Regions from separate parts of the Homo sapiens genome. Here regions 1, 2 and 4 are each linked to region 3. Evidence: fine-mapped expression QTL. A gene starts in region 3. Each other region holds a variant in brackets. All regions are shown on one strand. Distances are between the middles of the regions.

Region 1 (7,330 bases), 46 kb before region 3:
AGAATCGCTTGAACTCAGGAGTTGGAGGTTGCAGTGAGCCAAGATCGTGCCACTGCACTCCAGCCTGGGCGACAGAGTGAGACTCCATCTCAAAAACAAAACAAAACAAAACAAAAAAACAGGCATTACCAGCCTGCCACAGAATATGCCTAGAGAAATCTACAGGTGACCCTGATGGGGCATGCAGAACCCAGAGCCGTGGAAATCACCTAAAAGGAGGGGACCACCTAAAAGGAGGGGACAGGAGAGCATCTGAGCAGACTGTCTGTTGCCTGGAGCAACAGGAGGACTCTCTGGGGTCAGCTGAAAGGGAAGCAGTCAGGGGACTTGCAAGGGGGGAGTACCACTCGGGCAAGGGCAGGAGAATAACAGGCGGTGCCCTGGAGGAACACTGCATGCTGCTGAGGAAGGAGGGCGGCCTTGGCGATGATGTCACCATGAAGCACTTGGAATTGAGACAGAACATTCTCACTTGGGGTCAGTTTGTACCCTCGTACTGAAAGTTACTCCCTGGTGCTATCTGTACTCATCATATTTTGACACACTTTAGAGTAACCCTTCCATCTCTCCCTGCTTCTTTTTGAATTTAAACATCAAGCATTTGAACACAAGTCTTCATGTCCATTTATCTCAGTGTAAAGAGGAACAACTGGGCTGGGCGTGGTGGCTCATGCCCTCTCTTGGTACTTGATATAGTCAGTTGCCTGACTGCAAACCCAGGCCTACCCTGGGTAGAAAGAAAAGGGAGTTGTGACAGTTGCCAGGAAGATTTCTCTGTGGAAGCAGCTGGTGTTTTTCTGAGTGGAAACTTTGTGGAGGGAACTAGCATTTAATTAAAAAACAGGCTGGGCGCAGTGCCTTACACCTGTAATCCCAGCACTTTGGGAGGCCGAGGCGGGTGGATCACTTGAGGTCAGGAATTCGAGACCAGCCTGGCCAGTATGGCGAAACCCCATCTCCAATAAAAATACAAAAAATTAGCCAGGTTTAGTGGCCGGCACCTGTAATCCCAGCTACTTAGGAGGCTGAGGCAGGAGAATTGCTTGAACCTGGGAGGCGGAGGTTGCAGTGAGCCAAGATCGGGCCACTGCACTATAGCCTGGGCAACAGAGTGAGACTCCATCTCAAAAAAAAAAAAAAAAGGAATAACTGATGGGATCACGTTGACTTTCCCATTCTCTCCTCATAGACATGTGCTCAACAACTGCCTCTAGAGAGGAAGCAGGCCTGGTGGTGGCAGCTGTGGAGTAGGGACACGGTGGCTGGGATGGGGGTGGAGTTAGGGAGTGGGAAGCCGGGGGTCTATCTCCTGCCCATGGGCTTTTCCTATCTAGCCACATGGTAGATGAGCCCGTGCTCCTGGCCAGTTCTGCCCTCCTTGCCTCCATTTCATTTCAGGATTCCTGGCCACTCTCTCTGGTTGCCAGCCCAGCACCAAGCCTCCCAGACATTGATTCTCTGCTGCTCTGTGGCATAGAAGACTACAGTGATGGGCTCTGCAGACTTCACCTTGGAGTCCCCCTTTCATCCCTGCTCATTAGTCTCCTCCTCGGTTGTTTGGTTGAATGTTTCCTAATGCCAAGGGGTAGGGGCAACGTATGATATCTTCACTTTTTTACATCTCAGCATGACCCTGGCTTCCCCTCCTTCCTCCTTCCTGCTGCCTTGCCTTTTTACCCATCTACCTCCTGCTCACAGGATGGACACTGCCTTGTCCCTAGCAGCTCCAGCAGCTCCCTTCTCCAAATGCCCCCCTTCTCTAGGTGGCCCTTTCCGTCATGTCCTGGCCTTTGGATGTTGGTTCCCATAATGCAGATGAGAAGGTGGAGGCAGAGAGAGGGGAAGAAGCCGGCCAAGGCTGAACACTGAAGCACCCTCAGGGCCAAGGCAGGCATTCTCCTGCTGGATCGAAGGGCCCCTGGGAGACCCAGGATGCCCATGAAGAAGGTTCCCATCCCTGGGGCCCTGCTAAAGCTTCCCAGTGGGGGCCACATGTCTCCCACACTTCTAGGGCAGTGTTTCCCAAACTTACCTGACCATGAGGGGCACCTGAGGCTCTTGTCAAACGGTCACAGTTCTGAGTCCTTATTGCATTGGAATCCCCAGGTGCTGGAGGTGATTCTTATGAATAGGCAGGATGGGAAAATACTGCCTGATGGCCTTGTTCCTCAGTGCAAGGGTGAGGGAGGGGTCCTAGCAGCGCTAGTACCTCTTGGGGACTCGTTAGAAACGCATTTTAGAGTTTGAGACCAGCCTGGCCAACGTGGTGAAACTCTGTCTCTACTAAAAATACAAAAATTACCAGCATGGTGGTGCTGGCCTGTAGTCCCAGCTACTTGGGAGACTGAGGCAGGAGAATTGCTTGAACCTGGGAAGCAGAGGCTGCAGTGAGCCAAGATTGTGCCACTGCACTCCAGCCTGGGTGATGACTCCATCTCAAAAAAAAAAGAAAAAGAAAAAAGAAAAAGAAAAATGCATTTTAACAAGATCCCAGGTGTTTTGTAGGCACAGGGGTGTCTCTGGGTTGGAAATTCTTCAAGGTGACACCTTGTGTCAGGGAGAAATGCAGGCCTTGTAACCTTGGTCCTGTCATTTCAGCAATCTGAGCTCTGGTCTTGCTCCTCTGTGAACTGGTGGTGACAACAGCTGGGCACTGGTTGTGATGACCAGATTGGATGTGGGGCTGGAAACATATCACCAAGTTTAGAAATGTGGTCTGCCCCTGGTGTCTGGCCCTTGTCCTTGGCAGCTGCTCATTTCACTGTGGCCACCCCAGGACTCCCTATCCCATCTGTCTTCTCACAGGTGCTGCCCTCCCTGCCAGCCCCGGCCGCAGTGGGGCTCTTCGACTCTTGCAGGTAAACTCTTGAGAAGATGGCCAGCCTCTGGGGGGGGTCTCCGCCTTGGCCACAACCACAGCCCCTCCTTCCTACCCCCACCTCTGGTCATGGAAACCAGACGCCCCAGTCACTCAATGGACAGATGCTGAAGAACTTGGAGAATAATCACAGACAGAGCCCCCTTCCCAGAGGGACAGACCCATTGCCAAGGCCTCAGCCCAGAGGGACTGTGCTGGTCCCAGAAACAGCCCACATAGAAATGGTTTGGACGATTGGCTGGCCTTGTAAGGGTGGCTGGACGGGGGCCAGCTGGTAAAACATCGCGGTGGTGAGGAAAGGTGCCTGGAGCTAATGTGTATAGATAGGAGTATCATTGTGCCACCGGGCCAGGCATTCCCCACCCAGCTGACCTGATTATGGATGGAGGACAAGATGCTGCTGCTGCCAGCTTCCCCAGACCCCCAGACCATGCAGCACTTCCTGGCCTCAGACAGTTCCTCCTCTATGAAGATTTGTCCAATCAGAGCAGCCACAGGCTGCCCCAGCCTCTCTGTATTCACATCCTGGACCTTCCTGGCCTGACACCCTCAATTTTATACTGCATCTTGTTTGCTTCCATAAATGTCATCCTGTGTGTCAGATCACATGTCCCCCTTTTTTTGGTCTCAGAAAATAAGATTGTTATATTTACATTACTTCATTGAGTTTTATTTTGTGGAAGGCAGAGGGAGAGCGTAAGTAATGAGTTTGTTGTGTCTTGCTTTCCAACCCATTGTAGATTTCCTATTTTTTCTTTCCTGTTGTAAATGTTAATCAATCAATCTACAATCATGTATAATAATAATGCTTATACTTTCGGTTAGTGGCTCTGAGTTCTACTGACTTAAGTCCCATACACCCACCAGCCTGGAATTCCTTCCAGTGGGGCTACCCCACAGCTTTCTGGGGCACAGCCTTGCTTTCTCTCACAGTCTGGTCACTGTTGAAAAAAGCCGACATTGTCTTCTTGATTCAAATAGGCCTTCTGGAAAACATTATTCTGAACAATCTCACAAAGATCTATAAAGAGTTTTCTTTCTTTCTTTCTTTTTCTTTCCTTCTTTCTTTCTCTTTCTTTCTTTCTTTCTTTCTTTCTTTCTTTCTTTCTTTCTTTCTTTCTTTCTTTCTTTCTTTCTTTCTTTCTTTCTTTCTTTCTTTTCTGAGTTGGATTATCTTTCTGTCACCCAGGCTGGAGTGCAGTGGCATGATCTTGGCTTACTGCAACCTCCACTTCCCGGGTTAAAGTGATCCTCCTGCCTCAGCCTCCCAAGTAGCTGGGACTAGTGTGCCCACCACCATGCCTGGCTAATTTCTGTATTTTTAGTAGAGATGGGGTTTCATCATGTTGGCCAGACTAGTCTTGAACTCCTGGCCTTAAGTAATTCACCCGCTTCAGCCTCCCAAAGTGCTGGAATTACAGGCATGAGCCACCGCACCCAGCCAAGTGTTTTCAAAAATTGTGAACCAAACACCCAGCACCTTAAAGTATGTGAGAAGTTTAACATTCCACAATTAGACCACTTGATCTCCACAAGGGGGATACTGTGATCCCAGGAGAGCCTTGCCCGGGAAGCCTGGATTGTTCTAAAGCTTGGAAGTGACATCCCAGGTCCACACTGTAGGTTTCCTCTCAGCTCTGGGTCTGGGGGCCTTTGTCATGGCTGCAACTTGCAGAGAGGTGTCTTAGGACTGGGATGCCGCTGGCTGAGGCCCTCTTGAGGGTCCTTTTTCCCTTTCTACAGCCACATATTGGATTCTCTTATCGGAGCTTGGCAAGCTCTTCCCAGGGGATTTGCTGTTCCTGGCTACTTCCTCTCTTCCTCCTCTCCCCTTCCTTCTTAAGTCCCCACCCTCTTCATCTTCCTCTTTTCCCTTCTTCTCCCTTTTCTTTTCTTTCTTTTTTTGAGATGGAGTCTCGCTCTGTCGCCCAGGCTGGAGTGCAGTGGCATGATCTCGGCTCACTGCAACCTCCACCTCCTGGGTTTGAATGATTTTCCTGCCTCAGTCTCCTGAGTAGCTGGGATTATGGGCACACACCACCAGGCCCAGTTAATTTTTTTTTTTTTTTTTTTTTTTAGTAGAGATGGGATTTCACCATGTTGGCCAGGCTGGTCTCAAACTCCTGACCTCAGGTGATCCACCCACGTCGGCCTCCCAAAGTGTTGGGATTACAGGCATGAGCCACCAAACCTGGTGTTCTTCCCCCTTTTCTTGCCCTTCCCTCATCTGCCTTTCTGGACAGCCCCGCCCAGTGTTCCCTCTCCCTGGGGTCTGTGTTCCGTGTGACAGCCCCCTGCAGGTGGAGGAGCCAGCTCCCCATGTCCTTGCCTCCCCAGTGCTCCAGCCTCCCTGCCTGGCTCAGCCGCCTCGGCAGATGCAGGCACCCCCTGCATTGTTT[G/C]CTGTCCTGAAGACGAGCAGCTGCCGCACTAATTGCCACCAGCAGGGGGGCCGGGCTGTGCTCGCACTCCTCCTGCCGATTAGGGGGCGACAGGGGGGCGGTGGGGGGGGGGGCAGTTTTCAGGAGCCGAATGAGCTGAGCCAGTGTTGAGCATTATTCCAGGAATTTTAAACACTCGTTAAAGGCTTTGCCATGTCTCACTTCAGTACACATCATGCTCCAGTTACTGCTGGGAACTGCGGGGGCATCAGCCCGGGCAGCACTTATCAATATTTTAGCACGAGAAAGGCAAATGATGTTGAAACATTGAACTATATTTCCATCTGTTCAAACTGAAATGGAACAAGCTTAGCTCAGGAAATGGAATCTCTCCTCCCCAGCTGCCTTGGAAGCAGCAATACCCACTGGCCTGGCCTTGGCCCTTGCCTCAGTTTCCCCTTCACCTCTCTTCTCGATTAGTCCCCAGTGTTCATAGCTTATGGGCATGATATTGAGCAGGTGTTAGGTTTGTGGGTAGAGCAGGAGTGGTGGCACCTCAAAGAACCTGAGAGGGACCCCCGTTCTTGTTAAAACGTGCCTTCCCCATTGACTGACAGAGAACAGTGGGGTCAAATGCGGTCTGTCTTAGTGCCAGGGGACATCCTCTCCATCCCCTGCACGGGCCTGTTTCAGTGTCTCTGGACTGTCCGTCCTGCAGGAAGACCCAGGATGGCTGGCTGGATGTGAAAAGGAAAGCACTGACCATATACAGGTGGACGAACACCGTAAATACCACACACAAATAAAGCATTTATGGTAGAACCCTGTTTCCCCTGGAACAAAACAGAATTTATTGGCAGGAAAGAAACTTAAGAAATATTGGCATTCAGTTGTCTGGGAAGAACAGAGAAGTTTCTACAGTGTGGAAAGCAGGGTGGCTGATGTGGGTGGAGATGAGTCATCTCATGTGATTTAGGGGAGAGCCCATGGGATGTCTCCTCCAGCAGGGCCCCCAAAAGGCCTGTGGTTAACAGTATTCAAGGAAGAAGGAACCCTTTTGTCCCCAGCCCTAAAGCAGAATGGGGGATTGCTTCTTCCCATTTCCCCTCAGACTGTCTTTTGGCAACCTCTCCCTTTGAGGCTGTTCAGTTTAATTTGGTTCATCTGCAGGGAAATAGGGGTGGGGTGGGTGAAGGGCATGTGGTAAGAGATGGGCCCAGAGCCTGCATTCCCCAAGACTCACCCTGCTAAGAGGGGTCCTGGGGACTGGTGTGGGGTATATACTTTTTGTTTCTGGCATCAACTGAAGAATAATTGCAAGACATTCGTCACCCAGGCCCCCATGCAGGCAGCTAGGCTGGTGACAACTTGCCTTTTGGGGAAGGGGTTTCCACTGTGACAACTGTAGCAGCAGCAGAGAGGCTCTTGTCTGTCACAGGAGATCGAGGGCTGCAAAAGCCCGAGAACCCACTGATTTCATCCCTCTCTCTTTTTGCAGACAAGGCCACCTACATCCCAAGCCAGCTGGAGGAGCAGCTTCCAGTCTTCAGAGATGGGCCCCTCTTCTTCAGTTGGCCTTGGTAGTCAGGACAGAGGACAGAGGGATATATTGTAACATATATTGTAAAATTTGAGCCACATACACGGGATAAATGACAACGCAAATAATCATCTCCGAAAAGAAATCTGACATCCGACGACTTAGAGGCCAGAGCCATTGCTGACGCTCCTGGGGAGGAACATTCTTTGCAAGCATTTGTGCCTCAGTGAGGGTGGTGGGGAGCCAGCAAAGTGCTGGGCTCTGCAGAAATCTAGGGGGCTGCCTGGGTGATGTACAAATGCAGACCTATTACATCAATAGAAAAATGTAATGTGTTCATTACTATCAAGGCGGAGTGCTTTTTAAATTCACCATTTCTGAAAGACTCAGGATTAATGTCAAACTGTATGAAAAGACCCAGCCTTTCACCTTTCTTTCTCTTGACCATAGAATGCGGGTCTAGTAGGGGGAGAGCAAAGGGGGCACTTTAGAAGAATTGTGAAGCAAGCACAGACAGGGTCACAGAGAGCCCTG
Region 2 (7,838 bases), 310 kb after region 3:
GCATTCTAGTAAGAAGGGTTTCCATTTTAGTAAGTGGGAAAATGTGAGGTGTTTTACTTTGCCAAGAGTGAACTGTAGATGGAAAAAGTCTGAGACTCACTGCCTGGAGCCATCATTAACTCGGTGACTCCCTGATGATTTAACGGAGGTGAACTGTCTCCCAAACTTGCTCTCATAATTGGCCGGCGAAGAGATATGATGTAATAGATAAGTCAGCGGTGGAACAGGGAGATTACGAGCTGTCCTGTTTTACCAAACTTGCTGTTACGCTGCCCATGGAGCACCCCATTCGCCCAAAGACACAGTCCTCCCTGCCCCATCAGCAAGCCTGGCCTCACCGGGAGTAGCTCTAGCAATGTGTCTCAGCCAGGCCTTCAAACTCCTCCAACCTGGGCTGAAGGAGCTCTGCCAGGCAGCTGCCTGTCCCTGTCCTCTGGCCTCCCTTCATATGGTTGGCCTTTCCCCACCCAATCTGTTAGTCCTGGGATGGCAGTGTCCACTCAGTTCACAGCCTTTGATTCCCAGAGATTTCTGATTCTCTTCTTCTGGCTTATAGGACCAAGTCCTTGGCTGCTCTGCCCTACTAGTCTTCCCCATTATTATCCCCCATCCAACATCCAAGCGGGGCCTCACCAGCCGGTCTCATTCCTACATATTCAGCCCTGGAACAGCTGACTCAGCCTTCCCCTACCACTGGCAGAGAGTCACTTCTAGGCCTGTGTCCAGAATCATGATGATGATAATAATAACAGTAGTAACTACTACAATGTAACCACTGAGATGAACCAGATCTACTTTGCTTCCTGCTATGCTCATGTTTCCAGAATGCAGCATAGAACCTTACACGTTGGAGGTATTCAGTAAATGTCTGAGGAATAAAGGAATAGATGAGTACCATCTATCAAGTGTTTACTAAGCCCCAGAAAGGGCACCTAAGTCTTGTTCTCATGTTTCCTAATTTAATCCTCTAAACAAACTTTAGCAAGGGATAATACTGTCCTAATTTTATGGGTGAGGAAATTGAGATGCTAAGGAATCATATAGCCAATAAATAACAGAAACAGATGTAAAACCCAGTTCTAGATGTCTTTCAAACCTACTACCCTATACAAATCTATCCTGTGAGTCCCCAAGGTCAGTCTGGCCCCACTAAGAACAGAACAAGAGATTACAAATCAGAGCCCCCTGGGCCAAAGCCCTAAGCAGTCAAGCTACATCTCATGATGTGTTACATAGAAATGGCAAGCCGCTGGCTCCCAGAAATGTTTTGGTTCCCCCTCAGCTCTGGGAAGCCGGGCTCCAATGCGTGACTGCCCAGTCCCCTCAGATAACTCTGGACAGAGGGTACAAGCTGACCATCCAGAGCTTTGGCCAAGAACTCTAGAAATTCCTCCCGCTGGTGACCACCTTCAGCCCCTCCCCTCCGCAGCTGGACCACTGTGCATTCCAGGCAGATGTCTCAGACATGAGGTGGGACTTCAGTGATTTGGCAGGCTGAGTATCTGAAACAGATGAAAAGACTACTAGTCGTCCCCAAACATCCATTCTCTCTTTAATAATAGAACTTCCAATTTTAGATGGGTAAGTTCTGGGAAACAGAATGACACCAGAAGTCATGTGTACTTTTTCTAGATCCGTGGTCCTTAACTAGGGGTGATTTTGCCTCCCAGGAGATATTTTACAATGTCTAGATATATTTGTCATTGTCACCACTGGTATCTAGTGGATAGTGGCCAGAGATGCTGCTAAACACTGACAGTGCACACTAAAGAGAGTTATCTGGCACAAAATGCCAGCAGTGTCAAGGCTGAGAAATTCAATTCTAGATCTTATCCTTAAAAGGAATGCACACGGCCTCCTCTGGTTTTTTCCTCCTCTCCTCCAGGCTACAAGTTGAGGAAAACTGGAGCAATCTCCTTGGACTTAGAAAATGGAAACTAGGCCAGGCGTGGTGGGTCACGCCTGTAATCCCAGCACTTTGGGAGGCTGAGGAGGGTGGATCACGAGGTTAGGAGATCGAGACCAACCTGACCAACATAGTGAAACCCCATCTCTACTAAAATACAAAAAATGAGCTTGGCGTGGTGACACGCACTTGTAGTCCCAGCTACTCAGGAGGCTGAGGCAGGGGAATCCCTTGAACTCAGGAGGCAGAGGTTGCAGTGAGCCAAGATTGCGCCACCGTACTCCAGTCTGGGTGACAAGAGCAAAACTCTGTCTAAAAAAAAAAAAAAGAAAGAAAGCAAGAAAAGAAAATGGAAACTACCTGCTTGGGGATGTCAGAACCACAATAACAGCCTTGGATGACCTACCTCTACTATTACCATGAAAGAGAAATAATCCGCCTTGTATTTTGGGGTCCTTTTGTTATAGTAGCTTAGCCCATACCCCGATATGAGGGATTTTATGAGGCTAAATAGGATTTCAATTTAGCATAATTTAGTATAATTCCTTTTTTTCTATCCTCTTTCTCTCTTACCCTTGCTTTTGGTAACACCCTGTGATGGGCAGAATAATGGCCCCCTAAAATGCCTCTGTCTTAATCTCTGGAACCTGTGAATATGTTAGGTTACATGGCAAGGGGGAATTAAGGTTACAGATGCAATTAAGGTTGCTAATCAGCTGATCTTAAACTACGGAGGGTATCCCGATTACCCAGAATTGCCCACTGCAATCACAAACATCCTTATAAGTGAAAGGGGGAGGCAAGAGAGGCAGAATCAAAGTGACGCAGCATGAGAAGGACTCAACTGGCCATTGCTGGTTTTGAAGATGAAAGGGAGCCACAAGCCAAGGAATGCAGGGAGCCTCTAGAAGCTGGAAAAGGCAAGAAAACGGCTTCTCCCCTGGAGCCTCCAGAAGGAACCAGTCCTGCAGTCACCTTGACTTTAGCCCAAAGAGACCCCTTTAGGACTTCTAACCTTCAGAACTGAAGGATAATCAAGTTATATCATTTTAAGCACCAAGTAGTGTGGTGATTTGTTACAGCAGCCAGAGAAAAAGAATATTCATTGCCTTCTTTCTTTCTCCTTCCTCTCTCCTCTATCTCTCTTTTCAATCTAGCTTCTGGGGATCTAATCATTTTCTATGAAAGTATGAGCCACTGTGTAGGACAGGCCAAGGCCATAGTTTGCCTATGTCTGGAGTCTCCTGGAAAGCCCTCACCAGCAGGATAGCCTGTGCACCTGCACATGGAAACAGCAGCCATGCTAATCTGGAGCATGAGTTCGGTCCAGCAACTCATGAATTTGACTCTAATTTCTTTCATGATATGTTTTCAGAAACACAGATTTCATCAACATCCAAGATCCTGCAGTAAGGAGCCCAGGCTGCTCTTTATGAATCCCAGGTCATCACTACGTGGTCTGCTTTCCCAAAGGTGCTCTGCCCAAAGCCAAAGGGACCAGTAGGCAACAGCCATGTTAACTGTAGGCGGAATTAGCCAGCCCTGTAATTCCAAAGTGTTTAGCTTTGGAGCACAAAAAGTTAAACACCTTCTTGCAACACATTGTAAACATGTCAGTGTGTTTAACATGTTAACCATGCTCTGTTCTCCTGCCCATGTGTTTAGAAAAGAAACAGGTTATGATGTTTAACTAGTGAATAGATGTATGC[G/T]CTCATAGCGGCTAACACTTTCTAAACACTTGTGGATGCTTAAAATTATGATGTGTTTAAGATTCAAACACATTTGCTTTTCTACACTCTTAATCCAATGAGTGCTGGCTGCATTTTTTTTTTTTCTAATTGCGAGGGTTTGTCCACCTTGCAAAGGCCAGTCTGCCATGATGAGTTCCAAGAGCTGTCAATTGGCCTTTTTTTTAAAATTAGCATTTTCTTTGATACACGAATCCCCTTCTCAAGGAAAGGAATAACTAGAAGAGTGTAAATAATGGTCATTCTCTAGAGGATGTTGAGAGTCCTATTCTGTTAGAGAATTTAAAGGGTTTTACTGGCATCAGCTGCAAGGCTTTACCAATTTCACCATATGGTTCAGAAAATGAAAACCAAAGAGGCTCCAAATCCTGCAAAGGCGACACAGAAGTGTATGGAGGAACTGGGGATAATACCAGGCCTCCAGGTGCTGCCCAGGCCTCTGTTTACTTGTCCTCTCTACCCAGTCTCCTCAAACCAGCAGCTGGAAAAGGCATTAAACACTGCCTCCCGCTTCCAAGCGTGGGCTCACCATTTGCAGTCATACAGAGGGTTGTTTGGGGGTGGTTGTCCATCCAGTCCCCTCTGTCGTGCTGTAACCTTTCTACCCTACACCTCCATACTCTTTTGCCTGATGATGCCAGTAATATTCTCTCCAATCTCCTTTATCTACTCTGTGTCTGCCCACTTCTCCATGCCCCCTTCTGACCACAGCCCCTCCTGTAAGTGGCCTCGAAATGGCCTCTCTCTCTGCCATCAGACACCCTCTCTAACCAACCTTATTTCTTGCCAATGTCTCCTTTCCCCTGTAGGTTCCAGCCACCCTGGCCTTCTTTTAAGCTATTTCCTGCCTCAGGGCATTTCAATACGCTGCGAGAAAACCAATCTTTCCTTGGTTCTTGTCAACTAGCTGTTTTAAACAACAATGCCTCAGGAAAGCTTTGCCTGACTATCCCACAACCCCCTCCAGCCCAGGTCATATCCCCATTTTCTATCCCGGCACTTTTTGCTTCTACCCTTAGAGCACTTAATTACCATTTATTTAGGTTTGCCTTCCCCCACTAGGCTAAATTTCCAATGAGGGCAGGGTCTAAGGCAGTCTTGTTCACTGTTGTATCCTGGGCACCCAATGCCTGACACGTAGTTAGCACCTAATGAATGTTTGTTGAATGGCCAATGGGACTTCCAGCTATCCAGTCAATCTTGGGGTAGTGGAAAGAAAGATTGCATTATGAGTTGGGGGCTGTGAGTGTTGTTTCCCACCTGGTGCAAGCTGTTTAATTTCTCTGACTCTCGGTCTCTCTGCATGCCAGATGGGGAACTGGCTCAACTCAGCAAATGTTTATCAAGCTGGCCCCATGTATAAGGATGCTGATAGGCTCTCTCAGTGCCTGCAGAGATGAAAAACACAGTCCTGGCCCTCAAGGGGCTTGTCGTTTAGTGTGTAAGATTAAGGGGCCAGGAGCGGTGGCTCACACCTGTAATCCCAGCACTTCAAGAGGCCGAGGCAAGCTGATCACGAGGTCAGGAGATCGAGACCATCCTGGCTAACGCAGTGAAACCTTGTCTCTACTAAAAATACAAAAATTAGCCAGGTGTGGCGGCAGGTGCCTGTAATACCACCTATTCGGGAGGCTGAGGCAGGAGAATGGCGTGAACCCAGAAGGCAGAGCTTGCAGTGAGCCGAGATTGCGCCACTGCACTCCAGCCTGGGTGACAGAGCAAGACTCTGTCTGAAAAAAAAAAAAAAAAAGAAAAAAGATTAAGGCTTCAACATAAGTAACCACAATACAAGGCAAACTTGTTTTTTGTTTTTAGTATATGTCTTCATTTATTTCATTATGCCATTAATTATCTCCCTGCAATATTTTGTAGTTTTTAGTGTACAGATCTTTTACCTCTTTTTCAGCTTTATTCCTAAGTATTTGATATTTTCTAATGATATTTTAAATTGCACTATTCATAATTCTAATGTCCAATGATTCACTGTAGATACATAAACATACAATTAATTTGTATATGTTGATCTTGCATCCTGCAACCTTGTTAAACTTAGTGATTAGTTGTAAAATTTCTTTCTTTTAACTTTTAGGTTCAGGGGTACACGTGCAGGTCTGTTATGTAGGTAAGCTTGCGTCACAGGGGTTTGTCATACAGATTAGTTCATCACCCAGGTATTAAGCCCAGTACCCATTAGTTATTTTTCCTGATCCTCTCCCTCCTCCCACCTACAGGACAAATTTGACAATGCTCCAAGATCATTTGAAAGGACTAGGGAATGCATAGAAGAAAGAACCTACCTCCAAGTAACATACTGAGAAGGCTTTATAGGGGGAGGGACACCTGGGCAAACTTAGAACAGGCAGGACTTCAGCAAGCCAGAATGAGAGGGAATCCTTTCACTAATGCAGTGACATTAAAGACACAGAGATGGAGAAGCCTGAGAGAGGCTTGAGGAGCACCTAGGACCCAATGTAGCTGCCATGTAGGTTACAGAGGAGGAGATGAAACTGCAAAGGTTGATTGGAGACACATCAGGAGGTTTTGAAATGCCACTCAGGAGTTTGGAATAAACTATGCTGTAGGAGCTACTGGAGGACTGTGGGCAGGAGAGTGACCAATGAGAGCTACGCTTTAGGGTGGTTAATCCAACTTCCAGGACAAGAGGGATGATGTGTTAAGAGGCACCTGCAGTTATTCAGGAGAGAAGGGAGAAAGCAGATGGCAGTGAGAAAAGCAGCAAGACGGGGAGGCTGAGCTCAAGGAGCTATCGAAGACAGAAGCAGCAGGACTGAGGAGCTGGCCAGATGAGCAGGCCAAGGGGAATGCCAGCGAGGATGCCAGCAGGCCAGCGAGGATGCCAAGGGTGCAAGCTTGGACCATCAGGAACAAGATGGGATAACGAACAAAAACACAGGCCACCGGAGTAAGAGAAGCGGGTGGGGAAACACATAGCATATTTCAGACACGCTTACTGCAAGGCCCTGGTGAAGCCGTCAGGTGAAAACACTTGTAGGCAATGGGAAATGCAGGTCTTAAAACCAGAATGTGGATTAACACTTCCCAGCCTGGCCACAGGGCTACTGGGAAAATCAAAGGAGATGGTGAAACAGAAGATACGTTGGGATCTACAAGTCACCATGTACACGTAAGGCATGACAATTTGTATTTTTATTACTGCTCCAAAATACATCTTAAATATCTCAGAAGCTGGGGATTGGTCTCTCTCTAATCTCTAATCTTAGAGATTAGAAACCTGAAGTTATTCCCTGAGTGTTAAAACCAACCCATAAAGGAGTAGAATGGAGGTCCTTGTAAGACAGAATGGCTTCGGGCCCAGCAGATAGTGGCAAAGATGCTGAACCATCCCTGTGGACACGGGAAAGGGAGAAACATGGGGCATGACTGATGCTCACCCGAGTACTGTCTAGGTGCACAGAGGCAGGAGCACTTCCCTCTCTGGAATACCTACCTGTCACCACACAGGTCCTCATACCTAGGTGCAGAGACACACGTACGTACATATTCCCAATGCCTGGATTCTACCCCCTGAGATGCAGGCTGGCCTTCTGGTTTACACAGCAGCCTGTGCCTGTGCGAGTTTGGTTAATGTGAGTTATGCCATTCATGGCAAGCAAGGCTGAGCACTAGACTTCACACCAATGATTTGCCAAGTGAATGCCACTTGGTGGGTGCTTAAGGCACTTTAAGGAGACAAATGATCCTGGGCTTTCAAAACAATATTTTTTAAATACTTAACACCTATTTAGAGAAATAAAGGAGAAACTTATTTTTCAACAGTAATGAACATTCAACATATTTTCATTAACAAAAATAATTCTCATTAATATAAAATAGAATTCCAGACACTGAATGTGCCATTAGCATCTCAGTGCATTTGGAATTGTCTTTCATTTTCCAGTTTCGGCATCACTCATAAATGGATAGCATTAGTCCCCTGCACTCACCGAAGTCTGAGGTAACATCCATGGATAACGTTACAAGGTCATATTGAAAATATGATTTATGATTTTTGTTCCTGGCTTTCCATTTTTCTGTAATTCCTTTGGAATCAGGTGGGGGGACGATTGGTTTCCTGAAGGCGGCCTCCCAGAGAGGGAGCTGGCCTTCTGCTGAGTTCCATGGCTCCTCTGCAGTTTTCTGAACTGGGTATCTTCTTGGGAGGT
Region 3 (7,838 bases):
CATTTATATATTTATGATTTCTAATTTTATTATAAAATAAAAGCAGAAATATTTCCCGAAGAACATTCACATGAGGGCATTACGGGGAGACGGCAAGTCGGCGGCTCGGGGGGCGCGCTCAGCCGGGAGCGCTGTAGTCACAGTCCCGGGAGGAAGAGCGCGGTGTGGCGGGGCCTCGCCAAGAGAGAAGGAGGAGGGGCGTATGACGAGGCGGCGTTTAGGGGCTTCTGTGGCGCTGCCCTTTCTCTCTCACTTAAGTTACTAGACGAAAAGCTGACACCTGCAGCTCCCACTGACCCACATGGGCGAGGGAAAAGGCCTCAGGAGATGGCCTAGGTTCAAAGTCCCTGTATTTTCTCTCCTCTTCCCTCTCCCACCCCCTACTCCGGTAAAGCGAGGGCCAGAGGTAGGGGCAGATAGACCACCAGTCAGGAGGAGAAAGACAGGGGTACATACGGAGGGACCAGGACACAGAGTACAAGAGACTGGCAGGAGAGAAGAGAGGAGAAACAGAGAAGGAGAGAGAAAGGGAGAGACAGAAGGAGAGAATGAACGGTGGCAAGCTAGAAATCTAGAAGGAAAGCAATACAAGGAGAGGGAGAAAGACAGAAAGCAGAAAAAAGAAAAGAGAAGGAAGGGAAAGGAAGAGGAAAGGGGGAAAAGGCAAGACAAGAGAGGGTAAAAGGAAGAGACAGAGGGAGAGAGAGAATGACAGTGGTGTATAATTTATTCCCTTCTGTGGTTCAAGACTCAGTCTCCAGCCCCAAAAGGATCCTAAAAGTAACTTGTTGAAAATAAATCCCAAACAAGAACCAACATAGACAGCTATCTGCCCTACCCGGCTGTTCTACCCGCTCAGCCTGCGGGTCTTTCAGTACCTGGTGGGGCCGCAGGGGCGGGGCGCCCCTGGACACCGCCACTCCACGTCCCCAGTGTCAAGTCACAAAAGGCAAGCTCATCAAGGCAAATGGGTTCTAGGAGCCCAGGTCCACGAGGTTGGCTGACATGGGGTTGAGGATGGAGTCCTGCAGGCCATGGTGGTGTTGCAGTGGGTCCGCTCCACCTCCGCCTGGCACCGGCACTGGCACTGCGCTGGGGCCCGGAGGGTGGCCCAGGCTGTGCAGGGACGGCAGCCCAGGGGGCGGCGGGCTGAGGAGCAGTGCGGGGCTGGATGATGAGTGGTCTGGCGTCCCCGATGGAGTCTTCTCATCCTCCGAGCTGCCTAACACCGACTTGCCGCTGCCATTCAGCGGGTTGTGGCTGTTAGAATTGGAGTTCTCGTTGTTCTCCCTGCAAGTGCGGGAGCAAAGCAGCGGGGTCAGCAGGGACATCGAGACCACCCAGCGCCATCTCAGTCACAGTCAGAGCCAGCCACCAGCCTCGGGAGACAGATCCCGGGCTTGTGGCCTGCGGGTGTTTTCGGTTTCTACCATTTCCTCGACCTGGTCTGGGTTCTCCTTTCTGCCCGTTCTCTCCATCTCTCAACACCCAATTTCTCTTGCCCCTCTGCCCTTATCGTCCCCACCTCTCATGCTGTCAATCTCATCAATATCTTTTCTATATTTCCTCTTTCCCCCCTTCCCCAATATTTCTTTTCAGGAACAGAGGTGCAGGAGAACAGGGTTCCCTGAAGTTGTGGGGTGAGCCGGGAGGAAGAGACGATGCCTGGATTTTCAGATCACTCTAGGCTCCACAAGCCAGGTTTGCTGGGTAGATGTGGGGCTAGCAGGTTAAGGAACCCTGGATCCCAGGTCAAGGGATTTAGGGCCTCTCACAAGACTTCATTTCCCTTTGCTTTTTCTGCCCGAGGGAGACCCCTGGCTGGGAGACAGGCTCCTGGGGCTAAGCGTCCTTTCCCTGTAGCTCCAAACTGGGCAGCCCTGTGAGGGCTCTCCTTGCTGGGCCTAGAGACAAGGGTCCAAGGATGGAGGACTCCCTTTCCGTGGTGGTACAGTGAAAACGTCAGCTCGGAGACCAGAAGCTTGGGGGATAAAGGGCAGCCCCTGGGAGAAGGCCGAGGCTTTTCCATTGTAACCAGCCACTCCGGGAATCTGCAGCTCTCATCTGGGGCCTGGTCTGAGAACCCAGGTTTTCAGGAGTCTGATCACATGCCGGTTTGGGTGGAGGGGGACCCAGCAGAGAGAACCCACCTCCTTCTATGCCTTTGACTGACAGCTCCTCCCCAGATTTGGATATTTAAAATCCTGGGTAGGATCTCTTGTCACCAGCTTCGGGAGGGTTTTTCTTTCTGCTTTCCTGGGAGGGAGCTTCCCACAGGGCTGGCAGCTGAGACCTCACCACTGTGGAAACTCCAACCTCAGGGTCTCAGATACCTGGAAGTATCTGAGCCTGCAGCACTCCCCCTAAGATGTTTCTGGTTCAGCACCCTCACCTCTGACCCTGATCATTCAAACTCAGGGTGGAACACACCCCATATCACCAACCCCAGGTGTCCTGTTTTGCTCTTACCCCGGGCTGGATTCTGTTCCCATAATAAGTTTCTCTCCAGGTTTGAGGTCCTGAGGGGTTATAGGGCAGGCAGTGGCAAGGGCCTAATGATCAACCTTTAGGCTGGTTCAGGAAGTCCTGGTTTACCTGAGGACATCCAACTCCCAGCCCCTCTGTGCCTCTCAGCTCACCGCAGACATTCCGACCTACCCATCAGAGGTAGGGCCTAAGGAGAGAGGCATCAAGGGCCTGGAGTGCCAGGGAAGGGCGGCTATCTCTAGCAAGGCAGAAAACAGGGCATGCGTCTCTTCTCTCCCAGAACTGACACTTCCTCCCTTTCACCTCTGGATCCTTTCTAAGGAGATAAAGGACCCGCTCTCAACTCCATGTGACAACGAAAATTCATGGCCTGGCTTTTCCCCATCCAGGTCATTCTAGGGAAGTTCCAGCCCCAGTCCCGACCCCATCACACTTTGGCCTGGAGCTAAGGCTGGGGGGAAATGCCGGGAAGCACCACCAGCAAGAAATCTGCAAATCCCCTTTCATCTGGGCTCAAACCCCTCTGTCCTGAGGATGACCAGACCTACTGTGCCTGCCTCACAGGGGATACAGGCCCACAGTTCTGCGCTGCCCCGAAGCTCTCTGCTTCTCCACCCTTTTCCTCTAGCGACCGAGTAGTTAGTTGACAACTTCCTGAATTGCTCTGCCCGCTTTAGACAAATCCCTGCTCGCCGGGTCTCCGGCATAGAAAGGCCTAAGCATCGTCCAAGTCAGGCCGGGCTGCCGCTGGGCTGTGGCCGGGCCTGGGGGCCCAGTTTAGGCCTCTCCGGGGGACCGGCAGAAGCCCTGCGAACCCCTCCCTTGGGCCCCGGGGAGCTGGCGCCGAAGAAGGTCTACTTACTCGTACCTTTCCTTGGCCTCGGCCGCCCGGTCGCGCTGCCGCCGGTTCTTGAACCAGTTGCTGACCTGTGTGGTGGTGAGGCCCGTGGCCTCCGCCAGCTCACGCTTCTCGCGGGGTGAAGGGTAGGGGTTGTGCGCGTACCACTCGCGCAGCACGCTGCGACTCTTTTCCTTGAAGCAGTAGCTGGTCTCCTCGCCGTCCCAGATGGAGCGCGGCAGCGGGAATTTGCGGCGCACGCGGTATTTGCCCACGGCGCCCAGGGGTCGGCCGCGCAGCTTCTCCGCCTCGATGTAGTGTGCCTTGAGCCACAGCTGCTGCAGCTTGGCGTGGTTGTGCGGCGAGAACTGGTGGCTCTCCAGGATCTTGTAGAGCTCGCGGAAGTTGCCGCGGTGGAAGGCCACCACGGCCTTGGCCTTGAGCACGCTTTCATTCTTGTGAAGGTGCTCGCAGGCGGGCAGCGACCACAGGAAGCGGCCCAGCCGCTCGATGTTGCCGCCCTGCTGCAGCACCTCGCACACGCACGCCACTTGCTCCTGCGTGAAGCCGAAGGTGGGCAGCATGGACATGGTGCCGGCTGCGTCCCCGCCCGCCCGCGCGCGCCCTCACCGGGCCGCGCGGTCCCGCATGGGAGCTTCCTCGCCGGGCCGTCCGGGCCGAGACGCGGGCGGGGCTGGCCCCCTGGCCCGGCACTGGCCCCCGGTGAGCCCCGAGTCACTGCCGTACGTCCCCGCGCCGGCCGCGGGTCCCACGAAGCTCCGAACCCCAACGGCCCGCGCGCCTGGCCCAAGCCCTCGCCCAAGCCCGGGGGCCGCCCGGGGCGCCGCTCCGCATGCTCCGCGCCCGCCCGCCGTTCCCTCGCTCGCTTCTCACTCGTTCTCCCTCCCGTCTAGCTGGCTCTCAGCTTTCTTAATAATATTATTCTAAGCGGGCATGAGGCGCGGCGGCCCGCGCCCTGATTGGTCCGGTTATCTGACCCGGGGCCTGCCAGCGCCAGACAATAGTCGGAGTCAAATTATTCGCCATGGAGACGCTGTCAGTCACTGGTAACCCGAGCCTCGGCGGGCCGGGCGGCTCCCCCCGGCCGGCTCCGCTGACAGATCGCCCCGCTCCGCGCAGAACTGAGGGCGGCTCTACTGGAGCCTGGGGCGCTCTGAGAGCCTGGGAGGCGGAGAGGGGCCGGGTTGGGGCCGGCGGCGGCGGAGATTGACGGGGCGGATGCCCAAAGAGGGAGGGAGGAGGAGGACAGGAGAGCGGGGGGAGCGGGCGAAGACGAAAAGGGGTGGATCGAGGTGGGGAGAGAAGAGGAGAGAAGGGAAGGCGGAGACCGTTTAAGGGGGTGTCCAGGAGGAAGGGGAGGGAGAGGGGTGGAAGGAGACTCCAGGGGAAGAAAGTTTGGGCAGCTTTGGCTAGGAGAGGGCTCTGCAGCCTCGCCCAGACCCTACAGGGTTCCCCTTCTCCCCAGGTCACCGCGTCCCTCCCAGGCTCTCTGTTCACCGGGCACATTCTACCCCGGCGCAGGCCAGTGGGATGGGAGAGTTTGGACGTGCTCGGGTGCCGCCCAAAGACTTGGCTTTTTCTGCTGACAGCGCCCCACCCCCATCCTAGAAACTCTGGACTCAGCGGTCCTCGAGGGAAAAGGGGAGGGAGTAGACGAAAGAAATGGGGAAGATTTGGCAGTGGCCGCAGGCGGACGCCGGAGAATCGACTTCCCGGAGGATCCCGCCTTTCCTCCCTCTCCTAGCCCCGCCGGCTGCCTGGCGGCCTGTACCGCCCCAACTCTGCGCTCTCTGCTCCTCGCCGGGCGGGGACTCAGACTTAACCCCACGGGTCCCACAGCCCGAGGAGCGCCAGGCAGTTCCGTGTGGCCTCTATGGAAGCTGACTCCGGCCGGCAGCTGCGACGCAGAACCCCGGACGGCGCAGACCCGCAGTCTGCCCACCGGGGCGGGGGAGAGGGGCGACGGCAGGGACTCTAGGACGGTGGTGGGGCTTCCCCGGTGGGTGGTCGGGGAGGAGAACGGAGGCAAGATTCCCAGTCCTCCCGCTTCGCCGCTGGGGATCGGCTCGGCTCCTGGCCACTCCAGCCTGGGAACCGGCTCGCTGAGCTCCGGGATGAGGTGCTTTAAAAGGGGGTCCTGTTTTTTGCTTCTTTGTCAGGGTGCCAATGGAAACATGTGGTGCTGGTCCTGTGGGAGAAGGGCTCGCACAAAGGTGGGAGAACTGAGGATGGGTGTGTTCTTGCTCTACGTTTTGAAAAGCCCGGGGCTTAGCTCCTTCCCGGACATGTCCTTTCCACTTCCTTCAGTTTCCTCCTCTTCCCCCCTCAGCTGCTGCAGGCCAGGAGCTCCTAGGGCCATACTCAGTGCCTGACCCAAGCCAGCACAAATCCTGGGCTCTGCCCTCAGCCAGTCTAGGGCTATGGAACCCGAGTCTAGGCCAGTTCCTTCTTTCCCACCCTTTTATGCTTTCTATGGAGTTTGTGCTAGGAGCGCGGAATGGGAGTCTAGAGCCCTGGGTTCAACTTTTGGTTTTGCTTGGTGTCTATGGTAAGGCATATATTTATGCCTTTGTGTTTATTTCCTTCTCTGCAAGATTTCAAAAATTTTCCCTGTGCTGCAGCATTCCGGAAGTCCTTTGGGAGTGTTGTAGGCATGAGAGAATGGAACCCTGGGACTCCTCTTAAGACTTTAGCTTCCAGGGGCCTACCCTGGCATGTTGAATGAGGCCACAGGGCTGACAAAGTAGGTCCCAAGCCAGTGCGGGTGCAGAAAGGGGAAGCTTTCTGCAGAAATCCAGGTGGCATCTTTAGAGTCTGTATCTGTGGGCTGGGAGGAGGTCTGCTGTGTCCAGGCCACCCTATCCAGAGTCCTATGCACTGCTGCACAGGGGCTGCCCCAGAGTTGGATCTAAGGACCCTGGGAGACATGGAGAAGAATTTACCGCAGACTGTGATGAGGTTCAAAGCCCAATTTGCTGACCTCCAACAAAAGTGCAACGTACTCTTTTCAGCACGTCTCCTTCAGCTACGTGGTTAAAAGGATTCACCTGGCTGGCTGGTCCCAGCCCTGGCAATGGCCATCTTACATCTTAGCGTGCTTAGGCTGGGGCTGCAGAGGAGCACCCTGGTCTGGTGTGGGTGAGTGAGACCAGGCAGTCACTTCCTGGTATGAGACCCTGGGCCAGTCCCCAGTCTGCTCTTCATTCTCTTCCACTATTAGATTGAAGCCTGGGTAATCTCTCAAGTTCCTGCTGGTTCTGGGATGGGGTGGGTCTAAGAACACTAACCCTGAAAAAGCATACAATCTCTGCAACCTCAGCCACAGCCTTCACCATGAATGTGCCACTCCTCTGACCCATGAAGCTTTAAGATTAAACTTCCCCCAGGACTGGGTCCCGCCTATGTTCAGTGAAAGCAGATTTTTCTGGAGCTTCAGACTCACTGTTCCTCCAAGTGCTGCCCTCTTTGCAGCCCCTGGGCCCTAAGCCCATGAATCAGACCTGCCAGGAGCCTCCAGGCAACACTAAGCAGCACAGAGAGAACAGAACAGACATGGGGCCTGCCACCGTGGATAACATACTGTGTGCCATATGAAAAGTCATTACAGAGGAAGCACTGAAAACCTGGAGCACCGTTACCCGATGTATGGGTGTGTGTCAATATGCCCCTCATTCTCCTCCTCCCCCATGTATGTAGAAAACTGGTTCCAGCACATCTGGGCCAGAACCTCTTGGTAGCAGCAGTAGCTGGGTTACATGCTGAATGAGGGTCTCCTCACACTCCTTAGCCCCTTCCCTGCCTGGCCCATTCCCCGATAGTCTTTGCCACAGAACAGAATACTTGGGAGGTGTCTGGATGAGGATTTAATAGCCAGCCTGAGCCAATGACAATCTCAGCCCCCTAGTTGCAGTGCCCAGAGCAATTGCTGAGAGGCCTACGGGGTGCCGAAACTTTTGGTTCTACCTCACTCCAATCTCCGGAATCCCTGTCCTCCTTCCTGTCCAAAGACCCATTCCCAAGAGGCTTGTGCTTGCTTTTTATCCAGCAAAAACGGGAGAAACTCCATGGCTAGGGGGAGAAACCTTTTCGGAACCATGGAAATTTGAGCTTTACTGAAACACCTCCTTTCACCTCCAAGCTTCCCTGAAGTCCCTGGGAGGATGAGACTTTCTGGAAAGCAGCAGCAGGGGTGGGTGGGTGCTCCCCAGTGATCTCAGGCTGATGGAATAGCTTTGTCCCAGACGAATTGTCAGGGACAGTTTGGGGTCTTTGTGCCTGGAGTTGGGCAGGAAGCGCCCAGGACAGAGCCAGAAGGCACCTACTGTCCGGCGCCCATTGGGCAGCCCAGGGCTGGCACACCGCGCCCAGCGGGTGCACTTCTGGGCAAAGGAAGAAGTCAGCCCACTGGCCTCCCGAGGGCTTCCCTGGTTTTGGGATGGGGCCGTTTCGCAAAGAATAGGGTAATCTAGGAAGAAGGAGCTGCTCTCTGGCT
Region 4 (7,838 bases), 260 kb after region 3:
TTCATTTTCTGGGGCCTGTCAATGATGGAGGTGGAGAAGCCACCATTACTGAAGTTCTAGAGAGAGCCCAAGAAGCGCTGGAGGTTCAGAGAGGTGAAGAGCCCCCTGCAGCTGGCCAGCAAGGCTTAGGTCTGTCCTATCCACTGACTGCAGCATCCTGCTGTTATTAATAATCAGGACCTAAAACTCTTCCATCCATATGGCTCCCTGCTGTTGGGAAGGTATTTTCACATATGGCATATTATGGAAACTGCTCAAGAAGGCTACAGTTCTCCCAAAAAGTCTTCTTAGTTAGCAGTAGGGTTCGTTTTCTCACCTTTTCTTAAATCTCAAATTGTGAAAAAAGAAGGCTCCGCATACGCTGTCTCCATTTCATGACTTGCACATCTCCTTCCACATTGAGTGGAGCTGCTTTCAGTACAATGACCACTAATGTTGCGGTTCTAATCCTGGGACCCTTCCTGAGTCCTCACTGGCTCTGCTGTATTTGTTCCTGTCACCCACCAGCTTCCAATTCACCTCCACCTCCTCCCAGGCCATCTTTTCCTAGTCCACCTCCTCCCAGTTTACCCCCTCCCAATCCACCATCTCCTCCTCCCTGTCCACCTCCACCTCCTCTCAGTTCACCTCTGCCTCCTCCCAGCTCACCTTCTCCTCCTCCCAGTCCACCCTCACCTCTTCCGAGTCCACCTTTTCCTCCTCCTAGTCTACCTCCTCCCAATTCACCTCCTCTCAATCCACCTTCTCCTCCCAATCCACCTCAACCTCCTCCCCGTCCATCTTCTCCTCCCAGTCCACCTCCCACTCTGCCTCATCTTCCTGATCCACCACACCATACAGCTGTTTCAGGGCTCCAACCTGAATCCACCTTCGATTTGAAAACATTGCTGAATAACTGCAGCGGCCCCTTAAACAAATGTCATTATCCAAAGACAACAGACAACAACATACCTATGTAGAGATAAACATATGTGTGTTCTGTCTCCAAATCATTTTCAATAAATGTTGCCACAACACAGCTCAGCTATGTAGACGGTTTTTCAATCAATATTGCCTCAGGCTAGCAAATAAAGAAGGAAATCACTGGGAAATGCATTATTCATGAGCTCACCAGAGCGCTGATGACTGGCAGTGATAAAGGTCCCCGTGTGAGCAAGCAGCAGTCTGATAGCTCTGTATCAAGTCAATCTACCCAGCCTGCTTCCTGTTTTCGGGAGCAGGAGAGGGGAGATCAGTCCTCAACACTTTTCTCTTCCCTTTCATTTAGGAGAGTGGGCCCGTGCACCTGTGGGAACTGAACTTGTCTTTTGCTGAGGTCATGACACGTGGGGAACAGGATGGAGCAGAGGAAGGAGAGAACTGAATTCCCTCAGGGGACACCCTGATGAGAATTAATTAGAGGTCTGTCCTTGGTAGCTCTTCACCTCATACCTTCTAGTGAGCAAGAAAGAATCTCTCTCCACTTTTGAGAATTCTAATCGGCAAAGGGAAGTAATCACAGGACATTCATCCATATAGAGCCTTTTTCTGGTGGAAAGCCTGAGCATAGAGCAAGTTCGGGATGCCCTGCACCCCTTATCAATTAGCTTTCCTAGCAGAGACATGAATGAGGAAGGGGAGAGGGAGGGCTTCTGGGGCAGGGAATCCTGGGCTTACCCATGGATCCTCCACCGGCTCATTAAGTTACCTCGGACAAGGTGCTCCCCTGTACCTGGGCTTCTGAGTGCTCCCCTCCCGTTTTAAGTAAAAAGTCAGGAGCCCACAGCATCCAGAAAAGCGACCCAAATTTCTTTTGAAGTGTTGCATGAGCTAGAGTGGGAGAGAAAGGGAAAACTGAGGGGTAAGAAAAAATTGTCATGTTCAAATTAAATTTCAAATCATTAACAATACACGCTCATGCATAACTCATATGCACCTGAGAAATGCATTATGTAAATGAACCCAAAGTTCCAAAGAGCACCAGTTCACACACTACCACACATGCAGGGGTTGTGAAACCCAGGGCTGTACCCGTAGAAGACACGAAGATTACAGAAAGAATGGTACCATGGGGTCACTTCCAGCCCTGCTAAAACAGCTATGGCCATAAGTTGTTGAGCTTCCAGAGGAAGGTAAGAGCCAGTTGTCTGATGTTATTTGTTGCAGGCCCCCACTCCACTGTCTGCTGGACTCCAGGCGGGTTGTGTGGCTGGTATATCTGGATAGCAGGGCCCATGTCAGAGATCAAGGGATGCAGTTCCAAAGGAAGGGGGTTGGGCAGAACAAGGTCCAAGGGTCCAGTCCCCCACTTCCCAGGTGGAAGGGAGCCAAGGTAATATCATCACCTCTCAGTCCTGGCCAGACAGGGGTCTGTGAAAAGGAAAATAAAATCTCGGGACCCTAAACTCACTATGCCAAAGGGAAGAGTTAAACTTGGGAACTGGGTCATGCAAAAACTGCCTTCCTTGTGTTCCCAAACAGATAGCTGTAATCTCACATGCTACTTTATCGCATGTAAAGCGTAGATTCACTGAGCCAGCGAGGAATGCATAATCGACTTTCCCCCACTCCCTTCTTTTCAGGTGTAAAATGTAGATTCACTGAGCTGATCAGCACCTCACAGGAATGTAACCACTTGCCTCATTGCCTACTCACTCTCCTTTTTTGTTGTCTTTTTTCTTCCCCTTCCACTTGCTCTGTCCCCTTTATATATTGAGGTTCACAAAACCCTCTTTGGAAAAAGCACAGGACACAGACACCAACTACTGTGACTTGTGTTTCTTTTTCTCAGGCGTGTCCCTAACCTTGGCAAAATAAACCTCTAAATCCACTGAGATCTGCCTCCATCACTTTGTGGTTGACAGGTCACAGATGAGCGTGCAGGGTGAGTCAGAAGGTTCATGAGACAGAGCATGGGACAGCAATGCTCGGTCGTCATTCGGCCAAGAGACAGTGAATCTGCACAACCAACAAGGCCCCTCTTCCATAAGTCACACCACTTCTGTGAAAAGTCTGAGTTACAGATGTCTTTCTTTTTCATATTGCTTTGATATTTTCATATACACATAGGGCTTTGAATGAGGTTAACAAAGATTGACAAGTGGAAATCTTGTGGTTCCACTTCCCAAATAGAAAAAGATCATTGCTTATCATTGGCATAGTGGATACATTCAAGCATGTGTTCCTCAAGTGTGTGACAATTGTTCTTTTAATTGAGCTACCTTTCCTCCTGCAATCTTATTCATATGATGGCAGTTGCCTGAAGGAAAGGCTTGCAGCAATCTCAAGCACACAGAACTATGTTAATACCCATTGGGCAGCGACAAGAACAGCTGGGGATGAATACAA[T/C]CGGCCCTCTGTATCTGGGATTCCACAACCATGGATTCAACCAACCTTGGATGGAAAATGTTTGAAACACAAAAAGGATGCTTGTGTCTGTACTAAACACGGACAGGCTTTTTCTCTTACAATTATTCTCTAAACACCACAGTATAACAACTAGTCACATGGCATTCACATTGTATTAGGTATTGTAAGTAACCTAGAGATGATTTAAAGTATACAGGAAGATGCGTGCAGGTTACATGCAAATATTACCCCATATTATATCAGGAACTTCAGCATCTGTGGATTTTGGTATCTGAAGGGGGTCTTGGAAGCAATCACCCACGGATACTAAGGGACAACTGTAACTTTCTTTTTTTTTTTTTGAGATGGAATCTCACTCTGTCACCCAGGCTGCAGTGCAGTGGTGTGATCTTAGCTCACTGCAACCTCCATCTCCCAGGTTCAAGAGATTCTCCTGCCTCCGCCTCCAAAGTAGCTGGGATTACAGGTGCCCACCATCACTTCCTGCTGATTTTTGTGTTTTTAGTGGAGACGGGGTTTCACCATGTAGGCCGGGCCAGTCTCTAACTCCTGACCTCAAGTGATCCACCGGCTTCGGCCTCCCAAAGTGTTGGGATTACAGGCGTGAGCCACTGCAGACAACTGTAACGTTCACAAAGCTTGTACACTGTACTCTTTGGAAGCCCTTTAGCTTCCTGCACAGATGCCACATCTAAAAGCCAGAGCCAGGCAGCGAGAAGGACTGGCAGCAGTAATACATTGCCAGCCGGCCAAGAAAGTGCTACGGAAGCAGTTCTGCTATCTGTTTTCTTTCTGGGTCATGAATTTGGGTCCATTTAGCATGGGGTGGAAAACAACAATAACACAACAACAATAAAAACCCTCTCCTTCCCTGAATCGTCCCAGGGTGTGTCCTATGTCACAAAAGAGCACCTTAAAAATCATCTGGTCTAGTGCTTCCCAAACTGGGGTTTCCCAGAACACTTTTTCTAAGAGAGGTTAATAGGTAGGCTGTTCTCACGGTTAAATTAGTTTGGGAAACATGCAGTCTACCTCCCATATATTCATAATGCTTATTGTAATATTGAAGATACTGAGAGGTATTGCAGTCAATTAACCTTCACTTTGATTTTTTCAGCATCTAACAAATTTATCCATTTTCTCCTTTTAGCACAGTCAATAAAATACTGTAGAATGAAGTTATTTTGGTTAAATCCATATCTGCTCCCGCCCATCCTCCCTCTTCCCCTAACTTTGTTGTTCCCACCCACACATAACTTTACCAAAATTTTTTTTTTTTTTGAGACAGAGTCTCACTCTGTCACCCAGGCTGGAGTGCAGTGGTGCAATCTCAGTTCACTGCAACCTCCGCCTCCCAGGTTCAAGCGATTCTCGTGGCTCAAAGTTGTGTGCGGTCATGCCCGGCTATTTTTTGTATTTTTAGTTGAGACAGGTTTTCTCCATGTTGGCCAGGCTGGTCTGGAACTCCTGGCCTCAAGTGATCCACCTGCCTCGGCCTCCCAAAGTGCTGGGATTACAGGCATGAGCTACCGCGCCTGGCCACTTTACCAAGATCTTAAAAAGTTTAGGCGAATGTCCAGATGAAGCTCTCAGAACACCTGCTTGAAGAAGGCAGCTTGTTGGATGTGGCTGATGGCTTTACTGACCCTAATCCTTCTCTCTTCCCCATGTCCACGCCCTTTACTGTATACTTTTGCAGTTCCTTTTCCCACACCTTTGACACTGAGTTTGGTCATGTGACTTGGTTTGACCAATAGAAATGACAGTGCACCAGTTCCCAGTCAGGTTCTCAAGGGGCCTCTGTGATTCCTCCTGCTGTCCTCCGCCTGTGCTATTGCTGTGAGAACATGCCCAGTTAGCCTGCTGAAGGATGAGAGACATGTGGAGCAGATCCGAGCCACGCCCATCACCCCAGACAAGGCCAGCCCAGATCAGCCATGGCCAGCCAACCACCAGACGCGTTGAGTGAGTCCAGCCAAGCCAAAGTGCCTAGCCAACTCCCCACTGACCCCAGAGGCGTGAGCAGTAAACCTTGATTGTTGCATGCCCTTCAGGTTTTGTGTTTGCTTTTCATGCATCATGCGGCATTATTGAGGCAGTAGATCACTGGGTAAGAGAAAGAACATGGGCTTTGCAGCTGGTTATGTTAGATTCAAATCCTAGCTCCACTCTCTGTCAGCTGTGTGTACCTGAGCAAGTGATGCAACTTCTCTTAGCTTTAGCTTCCTCATCTTGAACAAAGATAACCTTAGAGCATGATTATCAGGATTAACGGAGATCATGTAGGAAAGCTCCTAAAATAGTGCCTGGCACGTGGTAGGTAATCAGTGAATGTTACTTCTTTTGTGTGGAATCCTTTAACTGAGTGCACAGAATTTTTACCTAAGGCTAAGTACTTTGGCATCTTCATTCATAGATTTGAATGGTCTGGAGTCAGAGCTCACCAAGATTTCCCAGGCATAGGGGCCATCCTGATGTACACACTATTTAGCAGCCTGCTTATATCACTTAGTGATACCGCACAAACTTCTTTCCACAGTTCCAATTTCTGTATCAACAGTCTCCTACCTCATTTTCAAAGGCCACAAAGTAGCCCTTGGCGGAAACATGCTATCATTTATTTTACCATTTGGGATGTTTCCATCAATTTTTTTCCCAGCCAAATAAGGAGTAAATATATATGAAACACCAAGATAGATAAAACAATGTAACTGTAAAATAGCACGTAATGAACAAAAGAAGAGCAGAGAAAGACATTCAAAAGAATGTGTAATCAGTGAACATTTGTCTCTGCAACAATTCTCTTAAAGAGGCACAAGTAATTTATTTTTTTCAAACTGTCTATCCTGAATGAATAAAATAAAAGCTTTGTTGTCTAAAGGAAAAAGCATCAGTGTTCTGAGAAATTTTACTTCTGAGGTGCATCAAAGCCATATAATTCAAATTTGCCTGCAATCTCTTAAAAAAGAGAGGACAAAGATAAAGCCCAACATTTCCAGACGTCAAGGATTCGAATTCGCGAGATTGATGGTCATAATCCCCACCCCTCTGAACCTAGTTCTATTTCTGGTCCTCTCGATGTATAAGACAAACAACTGGGAACTTTCCACGCTGGGCTCCAGAGAAAAGTATCTGCCTTTCTCCAAAGCCCTATGTGAGCTCACAGTCCCCTCAAAATGCCATTTTCCCCATTTCAGGTCCTTCCAGTGGAAAAAGTGGGTAAGTCTGACACAGCCACTGCCAGCTAGTCCTCGGGGCAGCCATACACCATTAGCAGATCCCTCGCTCCTAAAGGAAGTCATGCCGGCCTACAGTGGAACTCCATTTCCAGTTATTACTGCTAGACAAATGGCTTTTAAATTACATCCTAAAAGGCTCACAGGCCATTTGTCTTTGTAAGTAATGGCACAGAAATGCTGCATTACTGCCATCCTCACCCTGCAAAGGGGGTCTGCCTTACTAGGGGGATTGTAGGAAGGTGGATAAGAAAGAGACCCAGGAGGCAGAAATACCCAAGGTAGGGGCAGAAACACCCAAGATTTGATGCAGAAAAGTTGCCAGCTTTTCTGGAGCTGATGGGAGCACGCACACTGGCAAGACCTCTGAGAAGAAAATAGAGGTGGCTTTTCCTGGAAGCTGCCTACATCAACAGAGAGAACTGGGGTGGAACTTCCTGGGTGGGAAAGGGGAGCAGGTATAGAGCAGCACCAGAGTGTTATCCAGAGATAAAGCTGGATGGTGGCCATGACCCAGCCTTGACCACCAGGCTAGAGAGTCTGGATTTCACCCTAAAAGATGGAAACTTATGAGCAATTGGACTTCCCAAGGAAGTGGCCAGATGCCTGGCCCATGGCCAGAGACTGGCTGTGACTCTGAGCTCAGCCCCTGGAGCTCCAGGACTCTCTCCTCACCTTCCTTGGGAGATCTTAAAAGCCAGGAGCTGCTACTTCTACGGGGCTAGGCGTTAGCTCTGTGACATGTTATGAATAGAAAGACATTAAAGGAAAAATTCCAGCATTCCTCCTCCATGCTCTAAAGCCTTTGTTTACCTTATTATTAGAGGCCTGTCAGTACTCCTGAGAGCTGACAGGTCTGGAGGGTGAAGGAAGCTGTCACCGCATGGTTTCCACGCTGACAGTCTGTCTGGACTCCGTTTCACCACACAGCCAGCCTCGAGGCACCAAGTCACGCTACATCTTTCAGATCTGTGGCCTCCCTAAGGCATAGTGGGACCAGAGCCCCCAGTCTGGAGCCCAGAGAGTCATAGAGAGGGGCCTCTAAGTCTGCCAAAAACAAAAAGCTGCCAACATTCAGGGATGAAGTTATCATCATCTTGCATTGCTGGCCGTGTCTCGCTCCCAGAAGGAGGTGCTGCTTGTGTGTAACCTTCCCCTTCTGCTTCCTGTAAGAGATCTGAAGTCCTGTCCTTCATGGAAACAGTCCTCAGCCTGGCTATTTAAGATACTCCATACACTAACTTCACATCCCTC

Which allele goes with the higher level. Alleles are on the strand shown, and positions count from the first base shown. SD is a standard deviation of normalised expression in the study named. Not every link is listed here.
In carriers of allele G in region 1, the expression in pancreatic islets of the gene that starts at base 4,257 in region 3 tends to be higher than with C alone (moderate effect, 0.68 SD a copy in PISA).

The links. PIP is the estimated chance that this variant, and not a neighbour inherited with it, causes the effect.
Region 1: its variant is the best candidate, but not a certain one, in a credible set for the expression of SIX2 in pancreatic islets (PISA, PIP 0.75).
Region 2: its variant is the best candidate, but not a certain one, in a credible set for the expression of SIX2 in lung (TOPMed, PIP 0.56).
Region 4: its variant is the best candidate, but not a certain one, in a credible set for the expression of SIX2 in cerebellar hemisphere (GTEx, PIP 0.52).

The regions. Positions count from the first base shown.
Region 1 is chr2:44,959,664-44,966,993 of GRCh38, forward strand. No RefSeq gene overlaps it. Among named protein-coding and RNA genes, the nearest start is that of SIX3-AS1, 21 kb to the left of the region's middle. The variant G/C (reference allele first, on the strand shown) is at 5,278.
Region 2 is chr2:45,315,352-45,323,189 of GRCh38, forward strand. No RefSeq gene overlaps it. Among named protein-coding and RNA genes, the nearest start is that of LINC01121, 64 kb to the left of the region's middle. The variant G/T (reference allele first, on the strand shown) is at 3,616.
Region 3 is chr2:45,005,196-45,013,033 of GRCh38, forward strand. SIX2 (SIX homeobox 2) reads right to left here and starts at 4,257. Exons shown (of 2, transcript NM_016932.5): 1 at 3,356-4,257; 2 at 1-1,290. The coding sequence starts at 3,915. The coding sequence ends at 975. RefSeq lists enhancers at 591-1,134, 1,135-1,678, 2,952-3,725, 4,730-5,329, 7,593-7,838.
Region 4 is chr2:45,262,167-45,270,004 of GRCh38, forward strand. No RefSeq gene overlaps it. Among named protein-coding and RNA genes, the nearest start is that of LINC01121, 11 kb to the left of the region's middle. The variant T/C (reference allele first, on the strand shown) is at 3,328.